5 separate regions of the Homo sapiens genome follow, and all the other regions are linked to region 1. Evidence: fine-mapped expression QTL. A gene starts in region 1. Each other region holds a variant in brackets. All regions are shown on one strand. Distances are between the middles of the regions.

Evidence for each region. PIP is the estimated chance that this variant, and not a neighbour inherited with it, causes the effect. A credible set is the group of variants that fine-mapping cannot tell apart.
Region 2: its variant is the best candidate, but not a certain one, in a credible set for the expression of CPNE8 in whole blood (TOPMed, PIP 0.53).
Region 3: its variant is the best candidate, but not a certain one, in a credible set for the expression of CPNE8 in whole blood (TOPMed, PIP 0.77).
Region 4: its variant is the best candidate, but not a certain one, in a credible set for the expression of CPNE8 in whole blood (INTERVAL, PIP 0.53).
Region 5: its variant is the best candidate, but not a certain one, in a credible set for the expression of CPNE8 in tibial nerve (GTEx, PIP 0.66).

What each region holds. Positions count from the first base shown.
Region 1 is chr12:38,902,397-38,907,506 of GRCh38, forward strand. CPNE8 (copine 8) reads right to left here and starts at 3,195. Exons shown (of 20, transcript NM_153634.3): 1 at 3,041-3,195. The coding sequence starts at 3,138. It overlaps CPNE8-AS1 (CPNE8 antisense RNA 1), which reads left to right and starts at 3,316. Exons shown (of 2, transcript XR_007063275.1): 1 at 3,316-4,601. RefSeq lists a silencer at 3,180-3,349 and an enhancer at 4,480-4,739.
Region 2 is chr12:38,444,625-38,449,734 of GRCh38, forward strand. No RefSeq gene overlaps it. Among named protein-coding and RNA genes, the nearest start is that of ALG10B, 130 kb to the left of the region's middle. The variant G/A (reference allele first, on the strand shown) is at 3,119.
Region 3 is chr12:38,648,865-38,653,974 of GRCh38, forward strand. It overlaps CPNE8 (copine 8), which reads right to left. Exons shown (of 20, transcript NM_153634.3): 20 at 3,339-5,110. The coding sequence ends at 5,018. Among named protein-coding and RNA genes, the nearest start is that of CPNE8, 250 kb to the right of the region's middle. The variant T/C (reference allele first, on the strand shown) is at 1,988.
Region 4 is chr12:38,825,317-38,830,426 of GRCh38, forward strand. It overlaps CPNE8 (copine 8), which reads right to left. Exons shown (of 20, transcript NM_153634.3): 6 at 4,063-4,139. Among named protein-coding and RNA genes, the nearest start is that of CPNE8, 78 kb to the right of the region's middle. The variant A/G (reference allele first, on the strand shown) is at 2,499.
Region 5 is chr12:38,692,681-38,697,790 of GRCh38, forward strand. CPNE8 (copine 8) reads right to left here. Exons shown (of 20, transcript NM_153634.3): 15 at 977-1,158. Among named protein-coding and RNA genes, the nearest start is that of CPNE8, 210 kb to the right of the region's middle. The variant A/T (reference allele first, on the strand shown) is at 2,355.

The DNA.
Region 1 (5,110 bases):
AAGAAAGAAAGAAAGAAAGAAAAAGAAAGAAAGAAAGAAAGGAGAGAGAGAAAGAAAGATAAAGAATGAGAAAGAAAGAACCTATTCAAATCTGAGCTGCTTTTGAAGTGTGGGCAAATCCTCAGAAGTCTCTGGTATAGTAAGGCAAGGGAATTCCTTACTCTGCCTGCCCATAGCAAGGCTCAGAGGCCTTCAACTGTGCTTTGTTGCTAAGTGAAATCCCCACAACCTTTCTACAAAACATGTTCTTGATGCACATCAAAGAAGATAGAGAAAGCGGGAACAGGTATCCCAATGCTGGTTCTATCCTTGTGTTCTTTAACCAACTTATTGAAGTTCAAAAGAGAAGGACTTTTACAGAATTCCATACCTGAATCATATATAACACATTTATTCAACAAATGTTATTTCCAGTATTATAATAATAGCTAACATTTTTGAAAACATGTTTTTGTTTCATGCATTGTGTAAGCGCTTTCACACATCACCTTGATAACACTCTATATAAGGTAAATACCATAACTATTCTTATTTTTGGAGATGAGAATGCTTAGACAGACTGAATAAGAACTTACTCCAAGGTAGCAAGAACAAGTCACAAAGCCAGAATTTGTACTTAGGTCTCTGATGCCAAAGCCCAAACTAAACCACCTCCTATGGTTACAAGATCCAACAATACTCAAATATTTTTATCTTTGAATTTTAATGTATTAAAAATAAATTTAACCCACCTTTTCAGGAACTATTCCCAAACCTATTCCAAAGGCACTAACTTGGGTATTTAATTATGTTTCTCTTTGCCCAAAAGATGCTTTTTACCTCAAACTTATCGTAAATAGTAAGCTGAGTCAGAAGCAACTCAAACAATAGACTAAGCACTAGTGCCCCTGGCAGAGATGCTTGACACTAAGTATTCAGGTTCTCTTTCAGGATTTTTTTTTCCTGTTAGAAATCTTAAAAATTAAAAACAAAATGTCAAAGCAATGTTATGAAAAAAAGCTGGAACAAGGGATTTGCAGGTTCTGAGGCAGCAAACTGAAACAAATTGCCTTAAGCCAATTGACTTCAGTATGCCCAGCACACTCACAGAAAACATGCATCAAAAAAGGGGCTGCATTAAACATGGGCCCTACTGGCAGAATGACCAGTTTAGGTATAATTTCCCTTAAAAAGCTCATGGAAAAATTCAGACTTGATTGACAATATTCTTTTATATTCATTCCAAGTATAGGCCACATGCCATTCAGACTTTGCAGACTGTTGAGCAGAGGATAAGAACTCTAGTAATGCTGTTATTGTAGGACTTCCGGCTATCCATTATCTGTATATACCAGTAACTTCCCTCTAACATCGAAAGCAAGCTTCAGAGAAAAGAAAAAGGCCTAGGAATCCTCTAAAGAGTTTTCCAAACAGCTTCACCTGTTCCATTGACAGAAAAATCTCAGGCAGCACTTAAAGCAGTGACAGCAATGAGGCAAGAGCTTAATGATAGCTATCATTATCAGCATGATTATTTCCATAGTCCCAGATCAGTCTTAAGAGGCGGCAAACAATCAGGTGATATAGTTTCAGGGCTAGATAAAGGCTGTCCCCTACCCTCAAATAATACTTCTACTACGGTTGCTGGTGCTCGAATTTTCACCCCCAGAAAAGAATTCCTTTGGCTTTAGGCTCAGTTTGTGAAAATGCAAAGTCAAGATTGATGGAATTTTAAACTTATTTACATCAAGATCACCCAAATTTGTTAGATATCTTCAAGGCAAGTTTGCTAAGGAAAGGAAAGGGAGGATGTGAGGGCATAAAAACAATCTTAGGGCAAAAATGGATAAATGAGGAGCCAGTTTTCCAGTGAGACAGACCCAATTATGCAAACAAGGGAGTGGGCTCCAGGGTCAATATTAATTCGCAAATTAGTGGCCAGTACCAATTTAGCACCATCGCTCATCTCCTTCTCAAAATCATCTATGATATAGCGGTGATGCTGCTTTATTTACAGGGCAACTAACCGAAAGGTCAGGACAACGAGTTTGCAATTTACAGTCTCTGGACAGGGTTGAAAGTCAGTTTTTTTTTGTTTTTTTTTTTTTTTTGAGATGGAGTCTTGCGCTGTCGCCCAGGCTGGAGTGCAATGGCAAGATCTCAGCTCATTGCAACATCCACATCCCGGGTTCAAGCGATTCTCCTGTCTCAGTCTCCCGAGTAGCTGGGACTACAGGCGCGTGCCACCACGTCCGGCTAATTTTTGCATTTTTAGTAGAGACGGAGTTTCACCATATTGGCCAGGCTGGTCTCGAACTCCTGACCTCGTGATCCACCCGCCTTGGCCTCCCAAAGTGCTGGGAATACAGGCGTATAAACTGTACTGAGCCACTGCGCCCGGCCGAGAGTCAGTTTTTACAAGCACTCAGATGTGGGCCCGAAAACAAATCAAAACAAAAGTCGTGACTTCCCAGATCTTAGGTAAGGCATAGATTCGTCTGCAAGGAGGGCCGAAATCTCTACCTATCAGGCAAAAGGCAAAAAGCCCGGAAGGGTCGGGGAGAAGCAAGCTGGAAGGCTCCAGGAAGTGGGTGGGGAGGAAGCTGCCGGGGTTGGAGCCAACCCTAGCAACAGCAGGTTTGCACACGCCTAGCAGAGGAAGTCCCGGGCCTAAGCGTGCAGCGGTCACAAGAGCTTTTGGCAGTGCTGTCCCCTTCGATTCCGGTCATCACCCAACCATCCAGCCCGGGTTTGGGGCGGAAAACCGGCTTGTAAAGTGGGCGGCGGCCGGTGTTCCCACAGCTGAGTCACAGCCCAGCCAACTTTTACAGCGTTTCCCAGAAAGAAAATACAAAGTCTCAGTCCCGGAGCCCACCGCTTCTAATTCCCGCTCCCCTGTGTCACCTGACCCGGGGTAACTCCAGCCCCACTACTGAGATATTTCCCACTCATGGCGCAACTTCTTGCCTGCGCAAAGCCTCGTGGTACCCCGAGCGCTCTCCAAGTGCTACCAACCCCACAGATGAGAGGGCAGGAGAGAGGGGAAGGGCTGCGTCCTCACCTGCAGGACACGGACACCTCCACCCGCGTGGCCGGGATGGCAGCGCTCAGCTGGTTCAAGTCCCCGATGCCCGCAGTGCTGTTGTAGCGGCTGTCCATATTGGGAGGAGGCGCCTTGGACTTGTCCGGCGCCCACAACCACAGCTCGGGCGGACTGAGGGCTAGCTCCCGTCAGGCGGGGATGGGGGTTGAGGGTGGAGGCAGAAGAAGGAGGCGGAGGCAGCGCGCGGGATGGGGGAGGGAAGGGAGGAGGCGGACCTCCGCGCAGAGCCACGAGGGAACCGCTAGCCAGTCCTGGGTGAAACTGACGCTGCCAGGCAAGTGGCGCGCGGGGATCCCGGTTTCCCAGCCCCCTTCCGGCAGGCAGCAGCCCGGGCGGGGGACACACTCCGTGATCCCCTCCTGGCTGGAGGGGTCAGGCTTGGTGGACCCAGCAAGCAGCCTGATGGAGAAGGTGGCACCAGACGCAGACCCCTACCGTCCAGGACCGCAAGCCCTCGCCGGCTCTGCGTGCTTTTAGGTTTTGTCTCCACCTCTGCACACCCACACTCGCCTCCTGGGCCGCGACAGCTTCCTTCTGTCAATCAGGTGTGGACGGGAAGGTCTCGAAGTTTCCTCGCCTGAGTTGAAAGCTGGAGGTGGGGGCACCTCTGCCCGTTCCTAACTGCCCCGTTATAAGGTCCCCCTCCCCACAATTGGTTCTCACCTCGCCCTCGGAGCTCTTGGGAGATCCCTCCGTCCCTCCTACTGTGCCCTCGGGCAGATGAGTCTGGTCCCAGCTTCTGGACTGCCCACTGTCGGCCACTTGAGAGTTGGGGACGGTGGGGCATTGTGACGCTCTCCAACCTTGGAACACGGTGGCAAAGTGGCCGATCAATATATGGGACAAGTGGGGGCGGGGGGGCGGACTCTAAGGTGGAAAAAACAATACTACTTGGGATTTAAGGAAGCAATCTGGATTCTGTCTCCCCTTGGTTCTTCGGAGCTTAGAGGTCTAACGGCGACATTCCTCCTACAGTAAGGGCTCTTCTGGGTCCCTCGTTTCCAAAGGCATGAAAGTTCTGACCTGAAAATGGGGGCCGGGGAGGGTGATGTCACAACCATATAACGCAGCTCCTTCAGCCGACTCCCACCCGCAAGAACTGAGACCTGACGGATAAAAGCAGAGAGGAGTCAGAGTGAGCGCTGCGTTTGGGAAACTGCATTCCAGGGCAGCAAGACTGGTGCCAAGACGGAGTCGTGGCAAAAGCATCCGGAGGTAGACGAGGCGCCCCTCCACTGCAGGGACCTTTGTTCCCCGCGCCTTCCCTCCTGCCTCACCCGAGCGCCTGCGGGTCCCGGGAGCTCGCCACCAGGCGGCGACGGAGAACAGGATGCGGCGCAGCTGGAAGGCAGAGGGTGGAGAGGGGGCGGGTGTCCGTCCGATTTAACGCTCCAAGCACGGAGTTTCCAGCTGGTTGGGCTAAGTCTGGGAGGAGCAGTTTTTGCGGTGGAGGACTTGCCTTGCGTTGTAACATTTTAATCCACTTGCAGCCTCCTGCCTAGAGAATCTATAGAGGCGGGTGAGAGTGTGTAGGTGCAGTCTTGCCGATTCCCCTGCCGAGTGTACTTCCCCTGTTTCTTCTTGCTTTCCTTTCCTGATTTCCCCACCCACCGCTTTTTCTTCTTTTTTTTTCCTTCCTCTTGTCCTATTACAAATTAAACTGTAGTTTACTGCGATTTGGAAATGCCCTAAAACCCCAGGCATTTCTATTATGCTGCTCAAAGTTAATTTGGCATAGAGATCTAGGTTTTTTTTTAAGCTCACCAGAATTTTACTTTACAGAAGCCTACTGAAGAGATGAAACTTGAGAACTTTAGTAGTCAACATGTGGGATACTTACATCCAATTTGTTTCCACTTCAGTGAGGTATAACATATATAATGAACTGCACTTAAAGTGCATCCATCATTCGATAAATGTTGACTCATGTATCTCCCTGTGAAGCCATCACCAAAATCAAAATAATGAATCATTCCATCACCCAAAAGTTTTCTTACGTCGTAATCAGTACCTCCTTTCATCACTGAA
Region 2 (5,110 bases), 460 kb before region 1:
TCCTCCTTAGTGCCTACAATAAGATAACAATACATAATAATGGCCACCTACTAAATACAAATATAATTTTGTGATAGGAATATAATGACCAAAATTTTGTTAATAACAAACTAATATCTAGCTAGCAAGATCAACTTTATTCTGCAAGATAGCTACTTATTGTGAAGTATTGAGAGATACTTGATCTCAATGTCCTCTTTGTTGACCAGAAGTTTAATGGCAAGAAAAGACTACATTATACTTTGTAGTGAACATTGCCATACCCCAGTACATATACATCATATACAAACTTGTCTCTCAAGTTTCATTCTAGTAAATAAGTATAATCGAGAGTCCAATCCCATTTTTTTGATGTTCGATTACTGATAGTGTGTAAGTTTCATTCTATCCTCTTCCCGGGAAGCCCTACAGCTGGCAAAGCCCCCCAGCTTCCTCCTTTTGCGCAGGCAGGAAGTTCAAACTATGCATATGAACCCTCACCTCAATCCCACCCCCAGCTCATAAAAACCCGATGCCAGTCTCCTTTCCCTGTTTTCTCAAGACATTTTTGGACCAGCTTGGGAGGCATGCCCTGCTCTGCCCAGAAAGCCTTATTGTGTGACTAATAAATCTTTTCTTACCCTCATGGTATGAGTGTAGTATCATCAATTTTGATATCTGAACCAAATTTGGGGTTGGAGATCCATTCTGTTTCTTAGAGTGATCATAAAAACAAGAAAATAAATCCTGATGATCACAGATCCTTTATGCTTTCATCCATGATTCATGAATTAAATAATTTACTTTGCAAATATTTAAGGTGACTAAACAAAACACTATTCCAGGAAATGAGGTATAAAGATAAAAAATATTTAGTTTCAGCAACTAGGAAACAACACATATATGCAAATTGGACCTAAACCTGGGAATATTTGTTAACAATTGGATGTACGATAATATTCTGATCATCATGCCATTGCAGATCCCACATTTCAGTGTAGCTTAGCCTCCCTCATGGTTTACTACTTCTATTCAGTAGTAAACTGCACAATTGGGAAGGATATGGAAAAGTGAAAATATATTCAATTTTTTAACAGCCAGGAAATAGAAGGTTAAAACAAAAAAGACAGCCCTGAGTATCACTCATCTTCATCTTTACTGCCGTCATCATTGCCAAACACTATCATCCAGCAGCTTCCTATCTGATTTTTCTCTTCCACTAATTTTTCCTCCTCTGCATCCCACATATAGTATAACTATCTTTTAAAATGTGAATCAGACGACTAGACTTCCCAGTTAAAGCATTCCGTGGCTTTCTCATTGCTCTTTGAAACAGATAATAATCTGTTTCTGCCTACCCATTCAATCACATCCCCTTCCTTTATCTCCTCCCTTGAATATTCCTACTGTCCTGGCTGTTCTAACAATCTCTGAATTCTAGGGAATCTGGACCTTCAAATATGCTGTTTTACAATGCTTTCTTCTCAATTCTACCTGCCCAACTTCTTTTCATACCTCAGGTTAAAAGTCCCTTTCTCAGATAAGCCATTTCTAAGCTCCTTGAATCTAACTCATCCTTCTGCATTTCTGATAGCATACTGCTCTTTTTTCTTCTCAATTATTATCACAATTTATAATTACAATTGTTCCTCAGTGTCTGTTGGGGATTTGTTCCAGGACTTCCTGTGGATATCAGAAATCAATGGATGCTGAATTTCCTTTCAGAAAATGGCACAGTATTTGCATAAACCTATCAAATACTTTGTAGGTACGTCCTTTGTATATTTTTAATCATCTCAAGATTACTTATAATACCTAATACAATGTAAAACCTATGTAAATAGTTGCTATACTGTACTGTTGGAATAATTACAAGGAAAAAAGTCTGCACATATACAGTGCAGATGCAATTTTGTTTCAAAAATTTTCAATTTGCCGTTGGTTGAATCCATGGATGTAGAACTCATGGATATGAGGGCCTATAATATTAACCTTGGCATTTGTTTACAAACCAAGACAAAAAAATGTCCATGAAGGCAGAGAACTGTATGAGTAGTCTTTTGCTATTATTGGGAAACAAGTGTCCATGAGTGTCTCAGGTATCTACACATGTTGATAGCAGAAACATCGACTGCCTTTTCTCCTATCTTTCAAGCATGTTTGCTAAGATATGTAACAACATAGTGTATCTCAAGCAGTCATTCTTGCTGTTTAGTGTAGTATACATAATGCAAAGGTCAGGCATGCTTACTGCACCTTATAAAAGATTAGAATTTCCTAAACTCAGGGGTCCTTGCCTGTAACACATTCCACTATGTGTACATTTGCTACCTACCCAGCACTCTTTACAGCACCCAGGGAAAATCTAGGCCTGGAGAGCTGCTACAAATGCTTATAGCTCAGCTAATGTTATTATTGTGAATAATGAACTGGCCTTTGTTTCTGACCAAAGAGTTTCATGCATTATGCCAGTATTCATGCACCTGTGGCAGGCTAACTTGTAAGCTTGAAAGTAGAGTAGAATTTCAGACTCTTTGTACTTCTTAAAAGTCACCACCATAAGCCTAGGACAAACACAGTTCACAGCCCACATTAGGTATGTAATAAAAATGTGTCTTAGGCTTGGTTTCTCACCCTAAAGCAACTGCAGATATTTAAGTACACATATAATTTTCCCTGTATCAGAAGGATTACAAATGTTCTGGGACCCTTCCACAGGCAAATAGACCTCCATGGACTTTGAATGGTCTAGTTGACTTCTATTCTAATATATATATATATTTATATATATGTATATATTTTTATATATATTTATATATGTATATATTTATATATATTTATATACATATTTATATATATATTTATATATATTTTTATATATATTTATATACATATTTATATATATATTTATATATATTTTTATATATATTTATATATATAAATATATACATACACATATATACATATATGTGTGTGTATATATAAATAAATACACACACATATATACATATATGTGTGTGTATATATAAATATATACATATACATATATACATATGTGTGTGTATATATATACATATATATGTGTGTGTATATATATACACAATAGGTGTATATACAGTATATACCTAATGGAATGAAG[G/A]CCTAGAGAAAATTCTTATGTCCTAGACTGTTCCAGCTGCTAAAACAAAATACCTTAGACTGGGTAATTTATAAACAATAGAAATCTATTGTTTACAGTCCTGAAGGCTAGAAAGTCCAAGATCAAGGTGCCAGAAGATTCAGTATCTAGTGAGGGCTGCTGTCCTTCAAAGGTGGTACCTTTTTGTTGTGTCCTCACCCAGTGGAAGGAGCAAACAAACGCCCTCAAGCACTTTTATAAAGGCATTAATCTCATTCATAAAGGTAAAGCCTCATGATCTAATCACTTCTCAATGGTTCCACAACTTAAGACAATTATCTTGGAGGTTAGGTTTCATATATGAATTGTGAAGGGACATAAACATTCAGATCATAACACCATATCTCATTAATTCCATTATTTTCTTCTTGTTCTAGTTGCCACCTCTACCTCTATATCAGCGCCTTGAAATAATTTTCAGAACCAAAGATAAAAGCACTTCCCACAGTGGCAGTAAAATTCTTAAATGTGCTACCATTCAGAATATATGTAAGTAAGTAAAGCTAAGTTCAAGAGTATTTAGATAAACCCATGGCCAGAACCACAGAGGTCATCAAAGTTGAGTTTTAAGTGCATTATTGAAAATTCTCTGACCTTGGGAAAGTTACCTTTTGAGTCTAGGTCTTATAATCTAAAAAGTAGAATAAGTTTGTTTGGATCATAAGATTGTTTTGAAGATGAAATATGATTTTATGGAAACAGCCAAGATGGGGAAGGACCAAAGACAATGATAATGCAAGTTTTTTTTTTTTTTTTTTTTTTTTTTTTTTGGCAATTACTGCATCTGTCTGTGGTACCCCACTTAGTCTTTTCCTTTGTTTTTAAGTACAATTTGCATAATTGACGTATCCTGACATAAGTAATTCTCACTCCCACATGTCTCCCTATATTGCTACAAAGTTTCATTTGGTGGAAATATAGTTCTCTTGCTTGGCTCCAAGGACTCTCAGCTTTGATATATTGTGGCCCTTGGAACTTAGATCCAATGGGCTCAATCTTTGTATGTACAGAAGTTGAAAGCAGAAGTCATTTGAATTTCTTTGCCCTAGGAGTTACAAAGCCCAAATATGCACCATAAAATAGAAGAAAATTGTGAGGGCACTATAAATACACCCCAATATCAATAATTATTTGCTCATTGATTTATGGCAAGTTCCTTATTGTCTCTGAACTTGGCTTCTTTCTTTGTAAAATAGGATACAACAATAGTAGTTACCTACAGGAGTGTCGTGAGTATTAAACAAGATTTTGTATGAAGTGCTCACAATTCTTGAAGCTGTTGCTATATCTACACACACATACAGACAGACATGAAAAGTACGTATTCTATTAATTTTTTCAGAATGAGAAACTAACCCAGAGAGACCAAGCAGTTTCTGCAAGATAACAAAGCAAGAAGATGTGAAATTAAGCCAAAAACTTGAGTCTGTCCAGTTACAGAGAAACCAAGCAGTTTCTACAAGATAACAAAGCTAGTAAAATGTGGAATTAAGATAAAAATTAATTCTGTCCAGTTACAATATCTAGGCTGTCTAAATGCAGAATAACAAGTGACTGGGACCATTTTAGAGCTTTTCTATTTGTCCTGACTCTAAGAGTATTATTTTGGATCTGAGACTCTGTATACTTGTGAAACTTTCCCAAGTCTAAAATAAACAAACAAAAAACTCCTGGGGGAGCCAGTAATGCTTCTCTCTCAAGAAACTGGCATTAAAGCACTTATGAGCTGACATAATATCTGCTCACTGAACTAAAAACTGGTTTAAAATCGAGAAGATGAACTACTTAGTAAACATCTCAGAATGAAAGGCAAAGTATTTGTCTTTCATTACAGTCATAAACCTTTAACAGATCTTCGTGAGAAAGGCTAAATAAGCAGTAACAGATACCATAAATACCACCATATAAGTCTTCAGTGTCAAATGCATTTTACTTTTTATCAAAATTTGTAAA
Region 3 (5,110 bases), 250 kb before region 1:
TAGCTATTTTTAAGCCAACCCTAAGCATATTCCTTCCTTTATCCTTCCCCCTAATTTGTGAGGTCAATGACATCCACCCATTTGACTGATAGCAAATCCCATCTGTATGAAATCAGCTTATCTAAATACATTAGGAATGCCCAGCAGGCCTGTTTCATGGAAATTAAATTGGTGAATAACTTTGTGGTGAGAAAATCATGAGGTCATGGTCACTATTGCTTTAAAACTAAATGAGCAAATCTTTCGATCAGTTTGCTTTTGCTCTTTCCATAGTCAGAGTTCAGTGGTCATTTTCCTCTCAGAGTTTGACATTCAGAGCATCTCTAAAGCCAGAAAATAAGAGCAAGGTTAGCTGTTGGGGTTGGGGGTGTGCTGATGAAGTATGAGGTAAGCAATAACCCTGACTGATGAGGTGTGAATATATTGCCTCAAATACTGCTCAAAAGTTTGTGATATGAATTAGAACTATTATGTCTTTGAGATAATCTTAGTATAGACATTATATTTGGAGACTTCTGTGTATTATGTTAGCATATTTTGCTTAGAGACAAAGAAGTAAGATTCTATACAGTAAAATGGTAGCTGGGGGTGGGGGTCATATCAATTTAAAGAAAAATAATTTTGTTATGGGCTACTCTGTGTTGGGAAAGTACTTCTACTTGGTATCTCCTCATTCCAGGTTAAAAACCTGAAATCTAGGAGGTGAGCATTGCTTAGGATAATCATCTCTTAAGAGTTATAAACATAGCTTAGGCAATAACTCATGAGAAAATACTTGTTTGTTGCTTCTCTATTTCCCCTTTCACATTTCCTAAGGAAGCCGTTTAAAACTTGTGCATGTTCATGATATACCAAGTCTTCCCTTATCAAAGTCATACCTAAGTAACTAAGATATGATGAAGAAAGGTTTTTTTAGAAAAAATTTTGGTGCAAAGAATTATGTCAATATGTTTTTAAAATGTGCTTATTCTTAAGATCCGTGTATCTGATCTCAGCACATCCCAATAGTTTGTAAAATGAAGGACTGCCTATTGTTAAATGACGCTCAGGTATCAACAGAGCAAATAGAGTGATACTTGGTAGGAAAGTGGGGTGAGGGGAACAGTCATGGTTGGGAGAAGAGGATGTCTTCTAGAACAGTGTTTATTCTAAGGAAATAACAAGGTTGAATCCCTTTGACTCTACGCTTTGATGTCCTCTGGGTCATCTGATGATACACCTATTTTCGTGAGTGGTAGGATGTTTATGAAGAAGGTGGTGAAAAATGCAAGGACATTCATGTCTTATTCCTCTGAAGTTTATTTGCTACAATACATTTGCCATGGAATTGTATGTGAATACTCTTTCAATTTAATTTCAGTATAAATATCGTAGGGCATATAAGTAGAAAAAATGAAGGTGGAACTGGCTGTAAGCAGAGGTTATTTAGGAAATAATCTCTGTAATGCAGTGCTTCCCTACATTTCAAGACACACATTAAAAATGGGAATGTTTGTTAAAATATCCTGAGGTTAGCCAATGAACATGATGGAGGCTGGGAGCTCCAATTACCCCAGGCACTATACACCACCCCAAGGTGCACACCTGTAGCCCATCTGCAAGGCATAAATCTGTAAATCATCTGTAACACACTGATGAGAAAGCTCTGCACAAGTGTGACTTTTTGCAAGTAGATTTCCATCTTTTCCATCTTCATAGGTAACACTCCACATGCACTCAATCTATTTGATCCTCAACTCAGCAGCTTATTTATTAGTAAATGTATCTGATTTGTGCTAATCACAAAAATTATTCTTTACTCTGAGTTTTTATGAAGAATCTGGCCACTTTGTCTCAATTACAGCTATATGTAACACAAAGTCATTAAATAAAATTCACGCAAGCTGAAAGAAAAAGGCATGCTCTTCAGTAAAATCTTTGGCATTTCAGGTCTTCTAAGAAATAACCACATCCACCTCATCTTTGTGAGAGGTCTTTATTTCCTAAG[T/C]TGATGATGACACAGTAATAAAAAAAAAAAGTGCATGAGTCCATCTATTATCTTCCCTGAGCCTGAAAAACAAAATAACCTATGCTCCAACCCTAATCCCAAATCCACTCTCTTCCCACATTCACCACCACCAGAGTCATATCCACCTCTTCTTTTCTCTCGATATTGCATGTTGGAAGAGATAATTTAAAAAGTAGTAATTGAGTCATCCAATAGTCTTTAGTTGCAGCAATTTCACACTCTAGCTACACATTACAATAAACTGGGGAGCTTTAAAAATTTACCAGGTGCCATTAAATACTATTCCATAAGGATGGAGAGACAAGATGCCCCAGATAAAATAAAATAGTTTAGAAATAATCTGAGGCAATTAATATGCTGAAATGCAATACAAAGATGAGCTCATAGAAAGTACTGATTATTGTTAGCATTGAAGTTTTAAAGAACAAGGTTCAGAGGAGCTGGGGCTTGAGTTGGAAAGTGCAAAGGATATCCTCAGGTAAAGACCAGAGAAGAGGGCTTGATGAGAGAACAGAGTATGAACACTATAGACAGACTCCAGGTAAACTCGGAGTGGTTGCGGAAAAGGAATGAGGCAGGCCTGGTTAGTTTTAATATTAATTTGAGAAGCAATAGGAATTGGTATTACATAACTGGGCAAATTCAGATGATGGAGATACTTGAAAATAACACCAAGAGTTCATCCTGGAGTTCAAATGATAATTAGAGGCTTTCATTGGAGAGGAAGGAAATGAGATTACAAAGATAGGACAGTGCCCAAAGTCTCTGGGGTTCTTGAGGGCACCACTTGAAGACTGACTTCTGCAGCAGGTTTAATGACTTGAATCTATCACCCCTTCTCAATATATACCTTTCTTGTTGCTCATTACCGTAAGTGTAAATATCCCTGATAACCAGTTTGTATGTACAACTATTACTATGTGTTTTCCTTTATGAAGCATGTCTCTGGGATTTCCTATTGCATAGCACCTAATAGCAACTAACAAAATGTAAGTTATAACAAATATTTCCAAGATGGTAATGAGCTCTTCTCTAGTTATATAGTCTTGGATACATCACTTAATCCCTCCAATCTTGGTTTACTACATTTTTGCAATGAATACACAAGATTTACGTATTTTCTAATCTTACATGTAGCATTAACTTCACATAAGTTTCTGATTATCATTCTCAGCCATATAAATGATAACATTTGTAAAGAGAAATTGCTTCATTCCTGGCCATTTACTCCCACTAGGTTTGAGCAATCTATTATTTATACAAGGAATTGTACAACTTTTGTTTTCTCTGGACAGTTCAAAAAAATAACTGATGTTTGACAAGAAGAAAAGAATATTGATCTTATTTATTTGTTTTTTGGGTTGATAAATAAAGCTAAATTTAAAAATCTGTAGGTAATACACTGTAGTGGCATAAATATTTAAGATCAGTAAAGGAAATCATCAAACTATTGTCATTCATACATGAAACGTACAAAGCAAATAGTTATGATTTAAAGATTTTAATACATAATTAAAAATCAACAATTATTACATAGTTATATAACATTGATACTGTTAGATATGTGGATGTATATATTTTTCTTTCCAGTAAAATAGTTTCATGCTTATAAAAGTCACCCTAGGTCAACTTGGGACAAAGAAAACAATGTACAGTAGAAATAAACCAAGTATTAAATAGAATATATAGGTAAGGAAAAAATATTATAAAGCAGTTACATTTTTGACACACACACACACACAAATAAATACACTTTTCTATTATTTGAAGGCAATTCACAATCATTTCCAGGAATTCCGTGAGAATTTAAGGCCATTTGTTCTAAAGAAATGCTTTAATTTAGACACAACTTCACAAAACTGTAATTCTTGTAAAAACTGTACATGCAAAAACCCTTTACAATTATTCGTGGACAGGCAGGTCAGTATATAGGAGTAGGTTATTTCACAAATGTGTTGTGCACTAAGTCACATAGTTGTATATATTTAACTGGGAATTTCACAAAAGACTTCCAGCCTGTGCACCTTGTGTGGCAACGTGGAATGGTGATAACAAGAAATTCCGATCAAGAGAGCCAGTATCCCTTTGAATTAAAATATCTAGACAAGATATAATGGAATAAAAAGTTTAAAACATCTGCTACATAGTTCACAGTTAAATAGTCTTGGTTTCAGTCTTTCTAAATAGCATTATTATATAAGGATGCTACTTTTTACAAAGTATTTTCTGTGCATTTATAGATCACAATGTTTGACTTTTTATAATTTCTACTTAGTGTTACAAAATACAAACCAACTGCAGTCTAAATTTAGAACCCAAACTCCATGAAAAATGCATGTTCAACCAGGAGACACATCTGCCGGGCTTAAACTCCCATACCCAGCAAACATTGCTGAGAAATTGTTTATTAAGCAGATGTAGTTTCTTAAGACAATCCAGTTACTGAAAAATAGAAAAGCATTTTTCCCTTCCCTTATTTGCAATTGTGTTTGTCCAGACAGTCATTCAAAGAGATATTGCTCTTGTGATTATAGCTATTGCAATTTAGAAGACAAAGGATTCAGTATTTAAAACTCTTATTTTTAAGAACAGTTATAAAAGTATTGAAATTTAAAAAGTAGTAACATGTAAACATTGATACAGAGACTGCTTTCCTATACACATAGCAGTCGAAGACAATATTTGAGTTAAAAACACAGTTTGTGCTTTTTCCCAACAATACATTGGAAATTAGCTGTTTCTGTTAAAAAAAAAAAGAAAGAAAGATTTAGAGAAGACATCCATACTTTGCTTCAAGCATTTAAACAATTTTTTCTGTTGCTCATGCAACAACCATATTTACAGTTTTGGTTTAGGAAGATATTTAAATTTGGATCCAAGAAAGCACATTAACTGCTGAAACCAAACTGAGAAAACTATCTCATTGCCTGGTTCATTACAGAGCACCAGGCACAAAGCATTAACTCAGCACTTTTGATTTGTAGTTGACATTAGCATTTCAGAGCACAGTCATATTTGAGTCTGTAACACATGTGTAGGTGGGGTGTATGGGGGAGGCGCAGGTGATGGCTTGATTCCTCGGGCTCTCATATAGGAGAGAAA
Region 4 (5,110 bases), 77 kb before region 1:
CCATGTTCCCATCTCTTCCCACTATTTGCTTATTAGATTGATTCAGGAAAAAAAGTTAAAAAGTAAAAAAAGTGAAGTACATGGAAGAGCAGGAGTTAGCAAGGATGAATGTGGAATTTAGGACTCCATGGAGTGGACCAGCTGCTCTGAAGGGCTATCTTGGCATTATTCGCAGATAAAGCTTCCATGAAAACAGCATTTTGCTCTTCCTCAACCCAATTGTGCTTTTTCAAACAAAAAGTATGAATGGTTGTGTTTTTCATTTGAGACTGAGGTAAGGGAGTAAAATGCTATTTGCATAGAAGCTGTATCTTCTCTCAAAGTACCTGAACTTAAAACTTAGCCAACAGACCTTGTTCTTCAATCCACATGTTCTTCCTCCAGACATATGCCTCTCTCACAGCTAGAGTTTTTCATTAAAGCCAGTCTTTTCTATGTAAGACGAAGGGTGACTACAAAATGTTTTTTCCAGTCCATTGTTCACCTGCGTTGGAACATCTGATCCAGTGATAGCACGTCACTAGGTGCCTTAATTAATAAAGCCAAAATATCTTTCCACTAGCAAACTAATCGTATTCACTTTTACTCTCCCATTTTTAATTAATCTTTCCTATTTCATTTCACCCTCTCATCTCTTTCCTCTATTGGATTATCTCAGGTATCTAATCCAATTCACTACTGTTTAATGAATGTAATTGCAACCAGTCTGCAATTCCTAAGGTTTTGTTTCTTTGCTTTTTTCTTTTGTAGTCCATCTCTTTGCTACACTCAAGCTTTACATTTTCTTACCCACTTAGTACTAAAACTTGCCTAGCTAAGTTTTCTTAGAAAAATTTAGAAATCTTCCACTGCTCAAACAATAATCTTACCTTTAAACTATTTTCTTAATGTTTATTTGCCTGACAAGACTGTCCAAGGAGATGAAGGGCTGAATAAAATTTAGTGATATAAGCTTAGAAAATCAAATTAATTATTCCTTTTTCAGTAAGAAAGATAGAACCTGAGGACCTTCAATAAAGTTGTCTAAATTTCAGAATATCCTATAGATGAAGCACAGCATGTGGTTACTGTAGATCCATGTTGGATGAACAAGTTTTGAAGTCTTTCCCTCATTACACTATATGAAATATGTGTATGTTATACCCCGCCCTTAGCAAGAGCTAAGAAAAATCTAAATCTCATCCTTTCTGATTACATAAAATGATCATGACTCAACCCCCAGCAAATTCTCCCAACATCTGCATATTCTACCAGTCTACCCTAGGTATCTTCACCTCTTAGCAAGAATTTATTTTTGCTGGTCATACCTAGTGGGAATTGTTGAATCAGCTGAACAAGGACCATATCTTATGCTATGTTCTATTCACCACATACCCCAATCAACACATTATAATAATATCAAATTTTTAATATATTCCAAGATTAATATAAATATGATTTTCCACTGGTAAATTTTTTATAACTTAATAATTTAATCATTTTCTGAAATTAGAATTATGATTTCCTTATGTTAAAAAAACAGATAAAAATTTCCAATAAAATTACTAATTTAAAAATATGTATACCACATAGGCTGGGTGCAGTGGCTCACGCCTGTAATCCCAGAACTTTGGGAGGCCGAGGCGGGCAGATCACGAGGTCAGGAGTTCGAGACCAGCCTGACCAACATGCTGAAACCCCGTCTCTACTAAAAATACAAAAAAAAAAAAAAAAAAATTAGCAGGGTGCCACACGTGCGCCTGTAATCCCAGCTACTCGGGAGGCTGAGGCAGAAGAATCACTTGAACCCGGGAGGCAGAGGTTGCAGTGAGCAGAGATTGCGCCTGGACAACAAAGGGAGACTCCGTCTCAAAAAAAAAAAAAAAAAAAAGTATACCACATAGCCAACGTGCATAGGAAAGAAATGCTCAACATCACTAATCATTAGAGAAATGCAAATAAAAACCATAATGAGATATCATCTTAGAACAGTCAGAGTGGCTATTACTAAAAAGTCAAAAAATAACAGATGCTGGTGAGGCTGCAGAGAAAAGGGAACACTTATATGCTGCTGGTGGAAATGTAAATTAGTTCAGCCATTGTGTAAAGCAATTTGGTGATTTCTCAAACAACTTAAAACAGAATTACCATTTGACCCAGCAATCCCATTATTGGGTACATAGCCAAAGGAATATAAATTGTTCTACCATAAAGACATTCATGTTTATGTTCATTGCAGCACTATTCACAATAGCAAAGACATGGAATCAACCTAAATGCCCACCAATGGTGGACTGGATAAATAAAATGTGGTAAATATACAACATGGAATATTATATAGACATAAAAAAGTCTGAAATTTTAACCTTTGTAGCAACAGTAATGGAACTAGAGGCCATTATCCTAAGCAAATTGACACAGGAACAGAAAACCAAATACCACATGTTCTCACTTATAAGCGGGAGATAAACATTGAGTAGTCATGGACACAAAGAAGGAAACAGCAGACACTGGAGCCT[A/G]CTTGAGGGTGGAGGAAGGGAGGAAAGTGAGGACCGAAAAACTACCTATGGGGTACTATGCTTATTACCTGGGTGATGAAATAATCTGTATGCCAAAGCCCTGTGATGTGCAATTTATCTACCTAACAAACCTGCACAAGTACCTCTGAACCTAAAATAAAAGCTAACAAATAAATAAATGAATAAGAAGTGTACCCATTCATAAAAATCTCTATTCTGTTGCTTGGAAATGAAAATTCTGTATTTTAATTGCTTTTGTTTTCTCTTGAAGAATGTTAAAGGCATCTTTAAGGTGGTATTGCATATATTATTGATTCTTTTTAACGACAAAAAACAAAAGGTAGATTTAGTGGTCTTAGGAATCCTTGTGAGCATAAGTCACTAGAATAGGAGATGCAATTAGAATTATATGCACTCAATAAAATATTTGCATCTGCCTCACAGATTGCTTACTACTTACTAAAGTGAGCATAAATATATTTTTGTAATAAGCTTCCAAGTCCTATAATTATGTGAAAATAAATTACACACAAAAAGAATTTAAAATGGGAGCTGATATATGAAAGTTTTCAAACTGACATTCGGTAATAATTTTCTAAGGAAATCAAATTAAATTTCAAAAACTTAGAATTTATAGAATTCTTATTAGCCTAATAATTTCTTGCATAGCAATGAACACACTAAATAAAAAGTTTAATTTTATATAAGAAATGTGAGAATAATGCCTTGCCATTTCAAGTATTTATGTCAGAAATAAACAGATTTATGGAGTATTGGAATATTTATTTTTTGAGTTTGAGATTCTTAAAAGGTTGATGAAGATAAAGACTTCAAAATTCCCTAAAGCTTTTGAGATTGTGGTTAACTCTGCAAATGTACTATTCTTTCTAGATCTTCTGAATTTTATGAACAGTTAAGTCAATCCAAATAATCAGGATTAGGGAAGGGGAAGAAGGAGGAAAGGAGAATAAAGCCATGAAAAATTTCTAAAATTTGCTCCCTGCCTTATTTGGAACTGGAGGAAACAGAATCAACTCATGCAATTGACATGAAAACTAAACATGATCCTAGTAATTGAAGGTGAAGATGGAATAGACCATTCTTAGTGATTACCTTCTCCCAATATTTACCTACTTACAGCTTTCTCTACAAGCCACTTCCATGGTAAAAATTATTATGAAAATTTCAATAACCAAAAGTGCATTTATGAAATACATGGTATTAACAGCAGTTTACTACATATATTTACTAACCCAAAAGAGTAAAATCTCTTTTTCAAGAAGTACGAAATCTGATAATTAATAGTACAACCAAAAGAAAAACAACACATTTCCTTATTTAAATTTGCTCATTTCATCTTGTGAAAATTTTTTAGCATAGCATATGACAGGTGACATAGAAATTATTCTTTAAAAATATGTCAAAATTATTTGTTAAAAGAAAAAACTCAAACAAGATTTTAAAACCCACTTTTGCTCCACAACCATGCATTCACCAATTCCAAACTGACAAAATAGAAACTGTTAAAGTTGGCATTTCATTGTCTGAATTAAAAAATACTTACACTATTGGTTTTTCCAGGCGACTTCCCTGTGAACCAACGATCTCTCCCAATGTACAAAACACTTGTCCCAGAAAGTCCTGAAATAGATAAAAAGATTAAAGCTCATAAGTTTCCAAACTATCTTTACAGTATATGTTTTGTACATCATACATCTGCATTGTTTTCATTGCTGAAATATTGACATTTCTAACTTCCAACAATAAGTAAAATAAGCTCAATATGCATTAATCTTACCATGTGACTTTCACATGTTTGCACAGCATTTTGTGTTTTTAATCACAGAGCAGTTATTCTGAGTTCACAGGCATTGCATTTGTTTTCTTTTTATGTTTTAAGTTACAATACAAAATAGACAAAAGTTGGAGGTTTTGAATGCACAATTGGCTTAACTTCGGATGCCTCTGAATTACTGGAATTGTTGGCTGAGGAGACAAAATGAGAAAGCCCACAGCAGAGGTGGCTAATCCCAGTAACACTTAGAGAAAGGTCATGTGATGCAGTAGCCTCAACTAGGGTCCACAGCCAACCTGCCAGGTGTCTATTCTAGTACTACCACTTACTAACTGTGATTGTAGGCAATTAATTAAGCTCTGCAGTTTGCTCTTCTCTATAATGTATTAGTACCTCCTCACAAAATTGTTCTGAGGGTTCAATTAGTTATTGCATGAGTTAATACTAGCATATTGTAAGTGCCTAAAAATGGGTTAAGTAAAATATACTATAACGTTCATTAACATACAACCGTATGATTCTTATTTTCAAGACTCAGAATAACCCTGTAAATGAGAGGTCTGATATTAACACTGCATTTCACATATAAAGAAACTAAGTGCTTATTTCACATTGCATGCCTATATCAAAACATCTCATGTACCTCATAAATGCATACACCTACTATGTACTCACAAAAATTTTTAATTTAATTTAATTTAATTTAAAAAATAGAAACTAAAACTCTAGAAGGTTGATTTTCCATAAATAGCAGAGCCAAGACAAACTCTGATGTTCTGATTCCAGACTGATATGCCACATAAGAATTTAAATACCA
Region 5 (5,110 bases), 210 kb before region 1:
AACATATGAAAGGAAAATTAATAAACCTCATTTAGTTTAACACAATTATTTCTTTTCTTAGGTTTTAAAAATGATGGTACATTACAGAGAGCCACACATTCTTTGATACTCTTCCCATTGAGAAGTGAAGGTTAATTCCTCTACCTTGAACCTGGGATGGTCTTAGTAACTTGCCTGACCAATAGGATGTTGCAGAAATAACATTTTGGGACTTCTAAGAATATGATATAAACATCCTTGGAGTTTCTGTCCTAGACTTTTAGATTACTCACCCTGGGAAAGCTGGCTGCTACATAAGAAATCTTGCTACAGTGAGACCACTATACAGTTCTGAAGCCCTCCATAACTACAGAGACAGGCCATATGTAAAACAAGGGAGAGTTGTCCAGGCAACCCCAGCTTTTCAGCTATCCAAGCTCAGGCCCAAGACATGAATGAACATGAGCAAAGAAGTTATGTTAGGAGACATATCAGCCCCAGAAGACATAACATGGAGAAGATCTAAGGAATTCAAAAGACAGCCAGAACTAAGTTGAAAAATATGGCCCCAGTCACCAATTCCAGGCATCTCTAGCCATTCAAGTCACCTAAGCTGAGACTCCAGGTACTGCAAAGCAAAAATGCGCTGTCTCCCATTATATTCTGCTTGAATTCCTGAGGCACAAATCATAAGCATAATAGAATGATATTGTTTGATATCTCTAAGTTTTAGGAAGGTTTGTTAGCAAGCAATAGATAACCAAAATAGACCCCCATTTGTAAATCAGGTGGGTGCACTTCAGGTAGATTTATGGCTAAGCTATTTAGCTGTCCTTTTTTCCCATTAAGTTCACACTCCAAAGTCAATTACTTACCAAAATTAAGCTACAGTCAGTAAAGCTTGCTACTTGACTGACTAAAGAATAAGTACCAAAGCAATATTAAAAGGTCTAACATTAATTTTTCAAAACATCAAATCCTTTTGACAAATTCTTACCAAAGCAAATTCGTGAGATATCCTTCCATCTGGAGGCAGTTTTGCACCAAATCCTAGAGCTGGAAACATTTTATCACTGTCATAATCTTGAACAATTTCTCCCACTGCTTTTAGTGCCATACCATAGGCATTCAGTTGGTAAGGATTCATGTAGTGGAGGGAAGTGGGCTGAGCAGGGTTGCCTGATGACAGAACACATATTTCAAACATAAGCAATTAGGGTAAATAAATTTAACAAAATTTTTCTTGGTGTCTATTTCAGAATGAAATATTCAAAATTATGTTTTTCTGCCTATATACAGTGTGTCAAATCATTTCTTTTTGGATGGATATTAACACAGAAATATTTGTTATATTATATTAGACATATAGAAAGTTCTAAGATATGCCAAAGCATACGCAGAAGTTTTCAGAAATGATTCTTATTTTCAATGCCACAGGGTATTTTTGAGTTTTTGTTCTGGAAGTATAAAAGTACTTTTGTTAATCTTATTTTATTGTAATCTTTATTTTTAAACAAAATCATGTGCCTTTAGCTTGAATCCTTATGCCTATGGCAAGATGACCCAATAGATTTAATGGACTTCAATAATTATGAAGGCTTCCTATAAATAACTGAATATTTGAGAAGTATCCCAATTTAGCACTTAAAAAAGGGAAGTATAGTGATTTTCAAGTGCAGGCTGATTAAATATCTAGATCTAAAAAATTCTTCACAACTTTCGAATGAGACATTAAGCTAGGAGCCAGAGGCCAGAGTCAAGTCTTGCCATTTGTATGGCAGCCTCTGTAAAATAAATCCTACCACTGTGTTTACCCGGAGGACAAAATGAGATTACACGTTTAAAAGTGATTAAAAATAATAAAGCACCATAAAATTGTAAGCTGAACTGCTGCAGTTATTATAGTCTGGGTCATCCACAAGGTTCTGAATTTCAAAATGCTTATACTGTGTAGGATGTTGCACTTGAATAGTGATGAAATTGAGAGAAAGTGTAATGTATTAATATGTGCTACCACTCAAACACATTGAAATTCACAACAAGTTGCCCTAATTACCAGCATAAAGGCAGCCTGAAAGTCCATTTGGTTCCTTAAATAAAAATGGAAAGTTAAATGAGACTTGTAGCAGCATATGAACCTCAATTTTACGTTAAAGCATTGTCTGAAGAAGAAAAGCCTCAGGACATAGTTTTTCTGATAAGGAACAAAAGTAACAAAAAGCACTTGAGATCCAGAGAGAAACAAAATAAAGATCTCCCCTTGGGTTATTTGACAGGTAATTATACACATAATATTTTTGTCCTAAAAACAATTAATTGAACTTTTTTTTATTTTATATTTCCAAGAGTTACCAGCGTTCAAGGGCTGGCTCCAC[A/T]TAACAAAATCACTAAAAAAGTATCTTCTTATCAAAATGGCCTAATGTTCCCCTCAACTTGACTAAACTTGTAGAAAGTTCCTTCCTGACTATAAGACCCTGACCGCTCTTTTCTTACAGCTCTCACTTTAGAAAACTTGCAATTGTAAATTCTTCCTCTGCACCTTTGAGATGTAAATCTTCTACAACCAAGGAGTATCTTTCTCAAGGACATGGAAGGCATCCCTTTGAAATATAAACATCAAGAAAAACAGCAGCCCTATCTTCCAGTCTCCGTGAGAAGATAGAAGCCTAACTTCAATAAGAACCAATTAGCAAACAGAGATGGCCTAAGCACACAAACCAACTTCCGGGCTAATGTCCTCTAGGACTTTTCCAGTAGCTCACCTCAGCAAGCACAAACACTCCAACCTTTTGTTTTGGAGTAGTTGAGTTCAATTTTTGTCCTCTGTTGTAACAGTCTTGACCCCTTTGCAATGGTCTTAAATAAAGCCTTTCTTGCCTTTTTAATGTGTCCAGTGTGATTTTTCTTTGACACTTGCTTCTAAAGTAGGGACTTTGCCACTTGATCCAAAGCCCAGTGGAATCAGAGATTTAAAAATACCATTACTAGACTAAATGGTTATTTAACACAACTCTCATGCCTGAAATCCTAGCACTCTGGGAGGCTGAGGCAGGTGGACAGCTTGAGCCCAGGAGTTTGCAACCAGCCTGGCCAACATGGTGAAACCCTGCCTCTACAAAAAATACAAAAATCAGCTGGGTGTGGTGGCATGTGCCTGTAGTCTCAGCTGCTCAGGAAGCTGAGATGTGGGAGATCACTTGAGTCCGGGAGGTCAAGGGTGCAGTGAGCCCCTGATAGTGTCACTGTACTCCAGCCTGAGCAACAGAGCAAGACCCTGTCTCAAAAACAAACACAAACAAACAAACAAACGAATACTTCCCCCAACTCTCAAACTCACAAATATAGAAGAGTTTTAATCCAATGGTGACAATATGGCAAATACTTTTACTTCACTATGAAAACTGTAAATAAAAAAATATAATTAGTACCCCAGAACATTTAAACATTTTAACCTAACATGCATAGCTGGGCCCTTTGTACCCATACAAAGATGTTACCTATCTCTTTCCAGCATCTTCCTCTACACCAGTCTCTTCACATTACTGCTAATGATACTTTCCCTCCCACCTCTACCTCTCAAGTTGCCACCCTGTCCTGAAATTCACCTTCTCCTCCTCCAACTTATGTCTCACACATACTAGACAACCCTTTTTGTTTATTCCAGCCCTTATTGTCTTTTCTCTTATACTGTTATGGATCTTGTGTTCTATACTAAAAAAAAAAAAAAAATGGCAATTTAAAGTATTGAGTCAACTCCTTGAGTCTGGGACAGTGTTTGTATTTCCTCTGTATCTGCAAAGATGCTTTTAAACAATGAATTTGTAGTAGGTTAATAACATTGGGGCCCAACTAATAGCCATAATAATTATAACACGGAACTTAACATGTATTGACAATTTTATATCATAGCTCACTTAACCCTTTCAACAAACTGACAATATGTATACTTTTGTTATACCCAATATTATCAAAATTATATCTGATTTTGCTTTAGAGATGTACTATACCTTTGTAAGAAACTCACAGTTCAATAGAATATTTTTAAGAGTTTATTGAGACATAATGGCATAAGTTACGTATTAACCATTTAAAATATATAATTCAGCTGGGCATGGTGGCTCATGCCTGTAATCCCAGCACTTTGGGAGGCCAAGGTGGGTGGATCGCTTTGAGCTCAGGAATTCGAGACCAGCCTAGGCAACATGGCAAAATCTCGTCTTTACAAAAAACACACAAATTAGCCAGGAGTTGGTGGCATGTGCCTGTAGTCCCAGCTACTTGGGAGGCTGAGGCTGGAGAATCACTTGAGCCCTGGAAGTGGAGGTTGCAGTGAGCTGAGATTGCACCCCTGTACTCCAGCCTGGGCGACAGAGTGAGATCCCCCATCTCAAAAAACAAAACAAAATAAAACAAAGAACAATTCAATGATTGTTACTATATTCATAGTTATGTGCAATCATCACTATAGTTAATTTCAGAACATTTTTATCACTTCAAAAAGAAACCGTACCCATTAGTTACCACCCTAGCCCTAAATAATCACTAATCGTCTTTTTGTCTCCATTGATTTGTCTCTTCTTGACAGTTCATAAAAACAGAATCACATAACATGTGATCTTTTGTAACTAGCTGCTTTCACTTAGCTTATAGATCTCAACAACCATCTATCTTATAGCCTGCATGTATTAGTGCTTTATTTTTGTTTATTGCAGAATAGTATTCCATTGTATGGATTTTATCATTTATCACTTGTTAGACATTTGGGTTGCTTCCACATTTGGGATATTATGCTGTTATATATATTCACGTATAAGTTTTTTTGCTGACATATGTTTTTAAGTCTCTTGAGTATATATCTAGGAATGAAATTGCTAGGTCATATGGTAACTCTATATTTAACAATGTGAGGAACTTAGCAAAGTGTTTTTCTAAAGTGGCTGTACAATTTTACATTCCCACTGATATAGTTTGGATGTTTGTCCCCTCCAAATCTCAATGTTGGTGATGGGGACTGGTGGGAGGTGTTTAGGTCATGGGGTAGGATCCCCCATGAATGGCTTGGTACCATCTTCCTAGTAATGAGGGAAGTTCTCACTCTGTTAGTTCACGTGAGAGGTGGTTGCTAAAAGGA